3 linked regions of the Homo sapiens genome follow. The protein of the gene in region 1 interacts with the protein of each later gene in a pairwise test. Each region holds a gene or a part of one and is shown in the gene's direction. Other genes may lie near its edges. The genes, in order: HMGCL, MS4A7 and PECR.

Region 1 (3,654 bases):
CGTTGTAGTATATTTATCCAGATTAAATCTGTAAAACAAAGTTGATTTGAAAAGTTACAGTATCAAGACAGGTAGAGGAAAGAGGAAAAAAAAAGTATTGTGTTACTTGATAGGGAAGACTAAGATTTTGAGCTGACTTTATATAGAGGAGACTCAGGGCATTTTGTAAAAACTGTCTTCAGCTACTGGGGGTGTCACCTCCCCTTAGACCCATGCTTGTCATCACCCAGCCTATGACTGTAACAGAAGAGAGCCCTCCTGCATCTCGCCCATACCCCGAAAAGTCCAGGACTGACTACTCCTCCCCACACTCAGTAATTGCTCTCTTCTGGGACAGCTGTGTCCTTCATGGTTTATGTGTTATTTTAATAACTTTAAAGAGTGGCTACTTTGTACCAAACACGGTGCCAAACACTAGGGATGAAGTGGAGTTGAGACAGACAAGGTCCCTCAAAGAGCTTATGTTCTACTGGAAGAGACATTGAGTAGGCATTCTTTATCGTGCTTTGAAGGAAATAATTATAGCTCTGCAATAGCGAAAATAATGGGGGTGGGAGGAATGGCAGCTTTGCAAAGGGTGGTCAGAGGAAGCCTCTCTGCAACTGAAAGATGAGAGAGAGATGTAAGAACAGCCAGTTTTTTTAAAAAAAGCCAGATGAGGAACCCTGGGGCAGAGGGAAGAGAAGGCAGGGAGCTTAGCAACCTGTTGGGTGGAGGTTGGGAGTGGACAGTAGGGGCGAGTGATGATTCCAGGAGGTCAGAGGAGGCAACTCATACAGTCTTTTCTTTTCTTAATTGGAAAGCATCAAGTGACATATAGAGTCATTTAATTTTTTTTTTTGAGACAGGGTCTCGCTCTGTTGCCCAGGCTGGAGTGTAGTGGCACAGTCATAGCTCACTGCAGGCTCAACCTTCTGGGCTCAAGCGATTCTCCCACCTCAGCCTCTTGAGTAGCTGGGACTACATGTCCATTCCACCACACCTGGCTAATTTTTCTATTTTTAGTAGAGACGGGGTTTCTTCATCATGTTGGCCAGGCTGATCTCGAACCTCTGGCCTCAAGTGATCTGCCTGCCTTGGCCTCCCAAAGTGCTGGGATTACAGGCATGAGCCACCGTGCCTGGCCTTTTTTTATTTTTTTTGGAAATGGAGTCTTCCTCTGTCGCCCAAGGTGGAGTACAGTGGCACGATCTTGGCTCATTGCAACTTCCACCTCCCTGGTTCAAGCAATTCTCCTGCCTCAGCCTCTTGAGTAGCTGGAGTTACAGGCGTGCACCACCACACCCGGCTATTTTTTGTGTATTTTTAGTAGAGATGGGGTTTCACCATGTTGGTCAGGCTGGTCTCAAACTCCCGACCTCAAGTGATCGCCCGCTTCGGCCTCCCAAAGTACTGGGATTACAGGCATGAGCCACTGCCCCCCGCAATACCTGGCCTTTTTAAACTACTTCTAACATACATACAGCAGCATACAGAGTCCTATAGGCCATGGTGAATAGGTGAAATGGCTCAATGAAGTTCTGGCTTATGCAGTAGGGTACATGCGATGCCTTTGACAGAGATGGAAAGGATGGAGTCAGATGGGCTTTAGGAGAAATTAGAGTTCTGTTTCGGGACTGCTATATGAAGAGATGCGAATAGAGCTGTCAGGTAGGCAGTGGAAAAGGAGTCTGGACTTCAGGGGAGAACCGGTACTGGAAGGATGAATCTCTTGCTTGTTCCTGTTACTAAGTGAAATATTCTTTTTGTTCTTAATTCTAAAATAGACCAAATGTGAATTAAATGGTGAGAAATATTTCTTCTTGTCTCATTATTAGTGAAGATAGATCCATTCTTTCATATTGGTCTCCCTGGGAATTGTGGCAATCTCTTCCTCATACTTTTTGTTTCCTCTTTTAAACCAAAGGTCAGCACCTCATCTATGGGCACTTTACCAAAGCGGGTGAAAATTGTGGAAGTTGGTCCCCGAGATGGACTACAAAATGAAAAGGTAAAGTTGGAAATGAGCCAAAAAAACAGTTTTTTCAAGCATCTGCTTTGAGTATTACGTGTGATAGGTGCAATGGCAGTTGACAGAGCTATGCAAGATGTGATTCCTCTGCACAAGTTAGGGGAGAGTAGAGGAGGCCAAACAGGGACAGACACCTGTGACAGTTAAATGATCTAAAATGGTGGGGCAAGCTGGATGGGTGGCTCATGCCTGTCATCCCTAATTACTTGGGAGGCTGAGGTGGGAGGATGGCTTGAGCCCAGGAGTTTGAGACCAGTCTGGGCAATATAGCAAGACTCTATCTTATTAAAAAATATATGTATATATATAAACTGAATGGTGGTGCAACAGGTTTGGTGTCCCCAGGTCCACAGCCCAGTGGGGTGGGGTAGACCCAGCAATTCCATGTAAGGGGATTTATCCAAAGCAAGTCACGAAGGCCAAATGTAGAGATTTAGCCTTGGGGGTGTTCCTTACAAACCTGTTTGGTAAGCACAGAACAGTTGGAAACAACTTAAATATTTAGTATGAGGAAAGTTGGGTCAGATACACTATGGACTTTTTATAAAATGAAATATTATGAAGCCATTAATAACATAGGTATATATAAAGTGACTCAAGCAGTTTATAAAATAGTACATGTGACTGGGCATGGTGGTGGCTCATGCCTGTAATCCCAGCACTTCAGGAGGCTGAGGCAGAGCACGATTCTGTCTCCAAACAAAAACAAATAGTGCATGTGCGCGTACGCACGCGCGCGTGTGTGTGTGTGTGTTTTTGGGAGATGGCATCTCACTCTGTCACCCAGGCTGGAGTGCAATGGCGCAATCTCGGCTCACCTCAACCTCCTCCTCCCGGGTTCAAGTGATTCTCCTGCCTCAGCCTCCCGAATAGCTAGGATTACAGGCCCCTGCCACCATGCCCAGCTAATTTTTGTATTTTTAGTAGAGATGGGGTTTCACCAGGTTGGCCGGGCTGGTCTTGAACTCCCGACCTCAGGTGATCCACCTGCCTCAGCCTCCCAAAGTGCTGGGATTACAGGCATGAGCCAATGCGCCTGGCCATGTATTTTTTAATCTTAACACTTTTATGTAAGAAAAAAGTTTATATATGTATGGGAGCATTTATCTAGACTAGGACCTAGACCAGCACTTTCTGTGAAGATGGAAATATTCTGGACCTGAGCTTTTCCATGTGGTGGCCACTATACCCATGTGGCCCTTGAGAACTTGAGATGTGACTAGTGTGGCCAAGGAATTGTATTTTTATTTTTATACAATTTTTATTAAATTTAAATAACCACATGTGACTAGTGACATATTGGGCTGCACAGATCTAGAAAGTTACACACCAGGGTGTTAATAGCGTTATCACTGGGAGATTCTAAGGGTGGTTTTCTTTTGTTTTTGGCATGTTTTTCTGAAAGAATCATATATTGATTATTTTTTCAATAAGAAAAGCTTTTTTCTTTTTCTCTTTTTTTTTTTTTTTTTTTTTTTTTTTAGCACGTCCATCCTAGCTTTAATAGTGAGTGCTTGTTGGAAACAATAGTGTGTAAGTTCCCGAAGGGCAGAATCCTGTCTGTTCTGCTTCTGCTTACTGCTATATCCCCGGCACCTAGCACAATGCCTGCAACATGGAGGGCTTTCAAAAATTATTTGACA
Region 2 (3,654 bases), on another chromosome or scaffold:
AATCCTCACAAGAGTCCTTCAGGATAGTGTCATTATCCTTATTTTACAGATAAGGAAACTGGGGATGAATGAGGGAAAGTATCCTGCCTACGGCCAGCTCATCAATATCAGAACTGGGCTTCCAATGAATATTAGATAAAACTGATATGTTTTGGGAGTTTATCACATGCCTCCCCCTATGCTGAGTCCATTATATGTGTCATCTTATCCAACCTGTACCACAAACCTATGAAGTGGTGAAAATACCTTGCCCAGGGTGAGTTTAGCAGTAACTGGTGGATATGGGATCTGAACACACGACTGGACTCCAAGACATATGGTCAGATGTGCAACTAGATGCCTAGGCATTGGACTCCCATCCCAGTGCACTTTTCCATCTCCCTCACTAGGAAGAGATTCTAGGTGTCATTTCCAATTTTTACATGTTCTTCACTCCACCCAAGAGAGGCCAGAACCATTCCTAAAGCACCAACACATTGAGGCAAAATGTCAGGCAGCAGAGCTGTGGCACCTTTCAAGGATGACAAGCCTTTAACTAAACTCTGGCCTTCAGTAGGGAGAATGTTGAGCTGAAAACAAATCTGGGCAACATTTCAGGTGCTGAGCCTTGTTGCTGACACCACAGAGGCCCAGCAATGCTGCTGAGTTAGTGGTGGCAGACAACTTGCTCCTGGAATCTACAAGGGAACTGGAAATGTTAGGAAGGAAGAAAGGAAGGAAGAGGAAGAGGAGGAGAATTAACATGGCATAGAGAAAAAAATATCACAAGCGTCTGAGCCAGACAAGTCTCAATCCAGTCATGTAAACACAGGCTGTTAATATTTGCTACCATATATTGAACACATTCTAAGTGCCAGGCTAAGTACTTTATGTGACTATTTCATTCAATAAAAGTCACTTGAGCTTATTAGCCCCAGGTTTCTAATGTATAAAATTGATTTAATAACATGTAAGTTACAGGGTTGTTATAAGGATTAGAGCTGCAATGGTCTAATGCTTGGAATTCAGCAGGAGTTAAGTAAATGTTTACATTACTAATTACGAAGCCAATATAAGCAAGGAGGAAGATTCCGGATGGGACAGGCCATCTCGCTATAGGAAAGGAAAGTGGAACAGCATTCATCCTCAACATTTTTACGAAGACAAAATGAAGACTGGAGTAGAAGACTGATCAGTGCAGGTGTAGCATAAAAGTGTAATCCTGGAAGATGTGGTGTGAGAAGGTAGCACAAGTGAAGCAGAGATACAGGAGATAGGGAAGGGAAGCTGGAAGCAGAGGTCACTGGAGGGAGAGGGAGATGGACACATTCAGGGCTACAAAGCAAGTTCTATGTGATTTGCTCACCTCTCAATTGTGGGACCCCTCAAAATGTGTACAGTACTCTCCCAGTGACATGCTTCTTGACCACAATGGATGAACTGTGCCCAGCATGCCCACTTTCCAATGCTCCACTGATCCCCATGTTTTGTTTCTGAAGGACAACCAGCCTTGGAATAATGGCAAATACCTTCTTAAGTTCCTACAAAGTATGGTCCCTGGGAAGTTTATGTCTGTAAGTCAAACCTTGGGAAGTAACTGAGTTTTGATGCCTCTTCCAGCATCATCAGCATCATGCTATTACAATCCCAAACCATGGGGGTTTCTCACAGCTTTACACCAAAGGGCATCACTATCCCTCAAAGAGAGAAACCTGGACACATGTACCAAAACGAAGATTACCTGCAGAACGGGCTGCCAACAGAAACCACCGTTCTTGGGGTAAGTCCACCTCATTATAAGGGGAATACTGAGAAAATACTTTGTAAATGTATCTAGACTACAGATCTACAGTGGGTCTGGGAAACTCTTTCACTCTTTTCTGGCTGACTCCAGGCTAATGAGGACATGAAATGGAGCTTTAAGGGAAGACTCTTAAAGCTCTGCAGCAGTTTCTAGAAACTAAAACCACTAGATCTTTTTCACTAGCATGCTTCACAATTAACAGGTTAGTCTTTCTTATTTTATTTATTTATATATTTATTTATTTTGAGACAGAATCTCCCTCTGTCACCCAGCATGGAGTGCAGTGGCACGATCTCAGCTCACTGCAACCTCCGCCTCCTGGGTTCAAGTGATTCTTCTGCCTCAGCCTCCCGAGTAGCTGGGACTATGGGTGCACGCCACCACGCCCGGCTAATTTTTGTATTCTTAGTAGAGATGGGGTTTCACCATACTGGCCAGGCTGGTCTTGAACTCCTGACCTTGTGATCTGCCCGCCTTGGCCTCCCAAAGTGCTGGGATTACAGGCATGAGCCACTGTGCCCAGCCACAAATTAGTCTTTCTTATTTTGTCATTAGTACAGTAAAAATTTTCTATTTAACCATATGGATTTTACTCAATATGATTAAATTAACTTTGAGCTTATTTTTCAAATATTTTGAGATGAGACGATCAAGACTAATCTCATGACCCATTTTTCCCCGTTCATATGAGTAACTATAAGACATCCAAGTGTCCCAGATCATCATCCCTCATATCCAGAACTTTAATCTCCATGTGGTTTTGAATACCCTCTTATAATACCCAGGTCCTATTCACTGCCTATTTAGATGGATCTCCCTGCCCTGTTTCTTTACAATCTATTCTTAGTACAGCAGGTAGGGTACTCTTTTAAAAATGAAAGTTAGATCATGTATTCTCCTGGCTCAAAATTATCCAGTGGGATTCCTTTTTTGCTCAAAATGAAAAGCAAAGTTGGTAAAACATAGCCTAAAAATCCCTACATAGTTTGTACCATGCCTCCAGTACTTCACAAGCCTCATGTCCTACTACTTTGCTCTTAACTCTATTCTGCCTTGCATGGAACTTGTCTGTACCTTTACAGACAAGACATAGTACACATATAAGCTCTCCAATGGTAGTGATTTTCATTTGCTTCATTCCCTCGTGCCTGGCACACAACATACCTGTTGTGGTATTCAATAACTGTTGATGATGTGAATGGTTGACTTCTTTTTTTATTTCTCCTATGTTTGCATCATCTTTCAATTGCACATGCATTAAACTATGAGCAAAAGCATGGGCTTTAGAGCAAGCTAACAGCTAAACTTCAGTTCTTCCACTTGCGAAATAATTATTATTAAAATCCAATGATGAACAAAATAAGATGAATTACAGCAGAAGAGATGACCTGCTCTATCTAATTTCAACTGAAAAATCTCTTCATTAACACTCCTGTGAAAAGTTTGCTCTCTATTTCCACCTCACTGGACAACTTTTTTATCTACTTTTCAAGAAAATAAATTTAAAAACTGTCAAGTATCTTTTTCAAAAAAAGTTAAAATGTGTGTATGATCACTTTCCGATTTGCTGGTTTAATAATCCTATCAGAAAAGAAGAGGTTAGCTATACATGACTTTCTCTAGAAGCATATCGATTGGCTCCTTGTAACATTTTTCCTCTTTAATATAACAAATTATAATGTATTTTATACTCTTTATACTTTACCGTGTGCATTCAAATAATCACTTTTATCTGTTTGAAGTGCAGTCTAGATTTCCTGTCTTCTCTCTTGTAGACTGTCCAGATCCTGTGTTGCCTGTTGATTTCAAGTCTGGGGGCCATCTTGGTTTTTGCTCCCTACCCCTCCCACTTCAATCCAGCAATTTCCACC
Region 3 (3,654 bases), on another chromosome or scaffold:
AGTGGCACCCAAACGGGACTTTCAGGGACAAACAGAGACCTGAAGGGACCTAAAGAGGCCTGCAGGGACAAATAGAGATAAGTAGGGATAAATAGAAATAGAGGTAGAGTTAAATAGAGACAAATAGAGAGTTTTGGGCAAAAGTCATCTTAACTTGCAGGGCGTTACTGTAGCCCCAGGAGTTGTTGATTTTGATTGTGAAGAGGAAATTCCAGTAGTGGTAATGTCACAAGAACTTTGGGTTTTTGAACCAGGAGAATATATTGCACAACTATTGCTTGTTCCCTGTAAGTTGCACCCTTCTCCACGAAGGGAGAAGCGAGGGAATCAAGGATTTGAAAGTACAACTAGGAGAGAGATTTATCTATCACAACCCATAACATTTAATGGACTCACCTGTACAGTACAAATTGAAGGCTTAATGATTTTTTTTCTTTGCTATACTGTTGCACGAGAAGGATGAGCTTCAATTTGCTTTCCATGTGCCTTCTGTTAATCAGAGAGAGCCTGCCTCTCCTTATCAATGAGAAGTTTACCCCGTGGTAATTAACCAAAGAGGCAGAAGCTGAGTTACAGCTTGTGGAGCAGATGCTTTGGCAACGGCATGCCTCCTGGCCACAGCCACAAAAGCCTTTGCTTCTGTTTTGGTAGATTTACTGACGTGGGGATAAGGGTACGCTTGCGTTTTTGCAGGAGATGAACAAACTGTGTGGGTGCCCTCAAGGTGTGTGCGACCACAGAACGGGAGACTAGAGCGACCCATGGATCCCAACCATGGGCCCGGTTCCCCCAGTATGAGCTGAATGCGAAGACGGAATGAACCACCAAGGCTGCACATTTTGCAATTACCTGTCTCAATTAATTCAAAAACAAAAAGGGAGAGATGTTGCAGGCTGAAAGAGTGAGGGTCGTGATCAACTCAGTATACCGCTGGAGGGTATATGAGCAAACAGCAAACTGTTCTCATAAATGCAGAATGTTGGCAAATGACAAACTGCGTCTGCCACCCTTGAAGGAATGCTGAGGGCAGTCACGACCCAGGCGCAAGTGTTTCTTGTGATGAGGCACATCTGAAGCCTGTTAGCAATAATGTGAACCTGTGATCAGTTAAGCAGCTGACCAAATGTTACCTGCTCCTCCCTGCTCTTTCTACCCAATAAATACAAAAGGCCGTAGGAGCTCAAGGTTGCTGCCTTTACTCAGTAGAAGCAGGGAACCCTCTTCTTCTTCCCCTGGCCCCTTCCTTTAAAACAGTTTCTTTTGTTTTAAGTTTTCATTTCTGCGTTCATCCTCCTTCGTTCAGTGTCGTAATGACCGTCTCAAATAGTAAGTAGTAACAGTAGTAACTGTCGTAGTGACGGTCTCAAGTAGTAACCATGGCAGTCTGCCACAGAGGGACATGAAAAAAATAATAAAAGTAGACCAGTTTCACTGGGGAGATGTTGGTCAAAGAGTACAAAGTTTCATTTAGACAGGAGGAATAAGTTCTGATGATCTATTGCACAGCATGATGGCTATAGTTAGTAATGCATTGTGTATTTCAAAATTCCGAGAATAGTGGATTTAGCTCAAAGTGGTTCTTAGCTCAAAGAAATGATAAGAGGTGATAGATACATTAGCCTGATTTCATCATTCCACAATATATTTATATATCAAAATATCACATTTTACCCCATAGATGTATAGTTATTTGTCAGTTAAAAATAAAAATTTAAAAACCTCAGTATTGAAAATTAAACTGTTTTATTTTCATGTGAAGTGTGTCGAGTCATTCGATTAGTGCTTGCCTTCTCATTGTATACCTTATGATATAGAGCAAGCATTTTTTTCTGTACCTTGTTAAATTATTGTACTCCTTTCTATGTTTCGATCAGCTTCCAACATTTTATCCTTTATACTTTCAATGTCATGAAATATTTCCAAAAGTTTCTTTTTTTTTTTTTTTTTTGACAGAGTCTTGCTCTTGTCACCCAGGCTGGGGTGCAATGGCACGATCTCAGCTCACTACAACCTCTGCCTCCTGGGTTCAAGCAATTTTCCTGCCTCAGCCTCCGGAGTAGCTGGGATTACAGGCGCCCACCACCACACCTGGCTAATTTTTGTATTTTTAGTAGAAAAGGGGTTTTGCCATGTTGGTCAAGCTGGTCTCGAACTGCTGACCTTGTGATCCGCCCACCTCGACCTCCCAAAGTGCTGGGATTACAGAAGTGAGCCACCATGCCTGGCCCCAAAAGTGTCTTTAATCTGAAGTTTTTTGTGGGCATCACTTCCTCTGGGATATCTTCATCTTCTTTGTCACAGGCACTTTCCTCATGATGTTAAGTTTGCCTTCAGTAAGATCTTTTGGCTTTCTGTAGTTTCTAGACTGGCAGCAGTGTCACGCATTCCCCTTTTATAATTCCCCTGACATGCATTCTAATTTCGCTTCCAGTGTTACAAATTTTCATTTCTTGGTCTCACTTTTCATGTTTGTTGGCCAGTCCCCCCTTAGATCATGTGTTTTTATAAAATGTCACTTGGGTTTCTTGTTGAAAGACCAGGAGGTGACACAGCTATATTATTTGCTGTCTGAGCTCTTCTGAACTGAAGAAGAGATGCACAGTGGGCATTCACTGATAGACGCTGGAAGAAATGACATGATTAATCACTGATCTTGATGTGCATCTGTTATTTATGATTTGTGGGTTGAAAAGCTAGCAGTAAAGTTTGCATTTTATGCAGTTACAGTTAATATACCATGGTTGTTGAAATTTGAACCATGTTGTTGAGAGACTGGTGTCTTTAAGCTAAGCTAACTGAAATCAGAGCATATTGGAGCAGAGCAAAAGAAGGACCGTCTCTACTTCCATTTCCCCTTCTTAGCCATTGTGCTATTATTCTCAAGGAGAAGGAGGGAATCATTTTATTTCTACATATGTTATAAATCTTACAATATGTTGTTATTATTTTTGCTTTGAACTATACCTTTAAAGAGATCTGAATAGAAACAAGAAAAGTCTTTATATTTACTCACATAATTACTATTTCTGCAACATAGACCTCATCTCTACTAAAAAAAAAAAAAAAAAAAAAAAAAAATTGGCCAGATATGGTGGTGTATGTCTGTGGTCCCAGCTACTCGGGAGGCTGGGGTGGGAGGATCAGTGGATCCTGGAAGGTCAAGGCTGCAGTGTGCCAAGATCGCCACTGCACACCAGCCTAGGCAACAGAGTAAGACCCTGTCTCAAAAACAAACACACGAACCATTTTTAGTTCTCTTTCTTCTTCTGTATATTTTTAGATTTTTATCTGGCATCATTTTCCTTCTACTTGAAGGACTTCCTTTCATCTTTTTTGTAGTGCAGATCACCTTGATGAATTCTTCCAGCTTTCATATGTGTGAAAAAGTCTTTATTTTGCCATCATTTTTGAGAGATATTTTCACTGGGTTAAGATTTCTAGGTTCACCATCTTTTTCATTGCTTTCCATACCGTAAAGATGTTTCAGTGTCTTCTGGCTTGCATTGTTTCTGAAAGAAGTCTTTATCTTTCTTGTTGTATACTTAATGTGTTGTTTTTCTCTGGCTGCTTTTAAGATTTTTCTCTTCATCACTGGTCTATTTAATTATATCATCAGTGTCATTTCTGGTTCCGGTTTTTTTTTTTTTTTTTTTT

Evidence for each region.
Region 2: the proteins of HMGCL (region 1) and MS4A7 interact in a two-hybrid assay, tested with the Homo sapiens proteins (one large-scale study listed by BioGRID and IntAct).
Region 3: the proteins of HMGCL (region 1) and PECR come close enough for resonance energy transfer, tested with the Homo sapiens proteins (one large-scale study listed by BioGRID).

What each region holds. Positions count from the first base shown.
Region 1 is NC_000001.11:23,818,846-23,822,499, reverse strand, and holds part of HMGCL (hydroxymethylglutaryl-CoA lyase, mitochondrial isoform 1 precursor), read left to right. Parts: intron 1-1,906; coding exon 1,907-1,990; intron 1,991-3,654. UniProt on the Homo sapiens protein: Mitochondrial 3-hydroxy-3-methylglutaryl-CoA lyase that catalyzes a cation-dependent cleavage of (S)-3-hydroxy-3-methylglutaryl-CoA into acetyl-CoA and acetoacetate, a key step in ketogenesis. Terminal step in leucine catabolism.
Region 2 is NC_000011.10:60,381,530-60,385,183, forward strand, and holds part of MS4A7 (membrane-spanning 4-domains subfamily A member 7), read left to right. Parts: intron 1-1,599; 5' UTR 1,600-1,612; coding exon 1,613-1,759; intron 1,760-3,558; coding exon 3,559-3,654. UniProt on the Homo sapiens protein: May be involved in signal transduction as a component of a multimeric receptor complex.
Region 3 is NC_000002.12:216,068,229-216,071,882, reverse strand, and holds part of PECR (peroxisomal trans-2-enoyl-CoA reductase), read left to right. Parts: intron 1-3,654. UniProt on the Homo sapiens protein: Participates in chain elongation of fatty acids. Catalyzes the reduction of trans-2-enoyl-CoAs of varying chain lengths from 6:1 to 16:1, having maximum activity with 10:1 CoA. Has no 2,4-dienoyl-CoA reductase activity.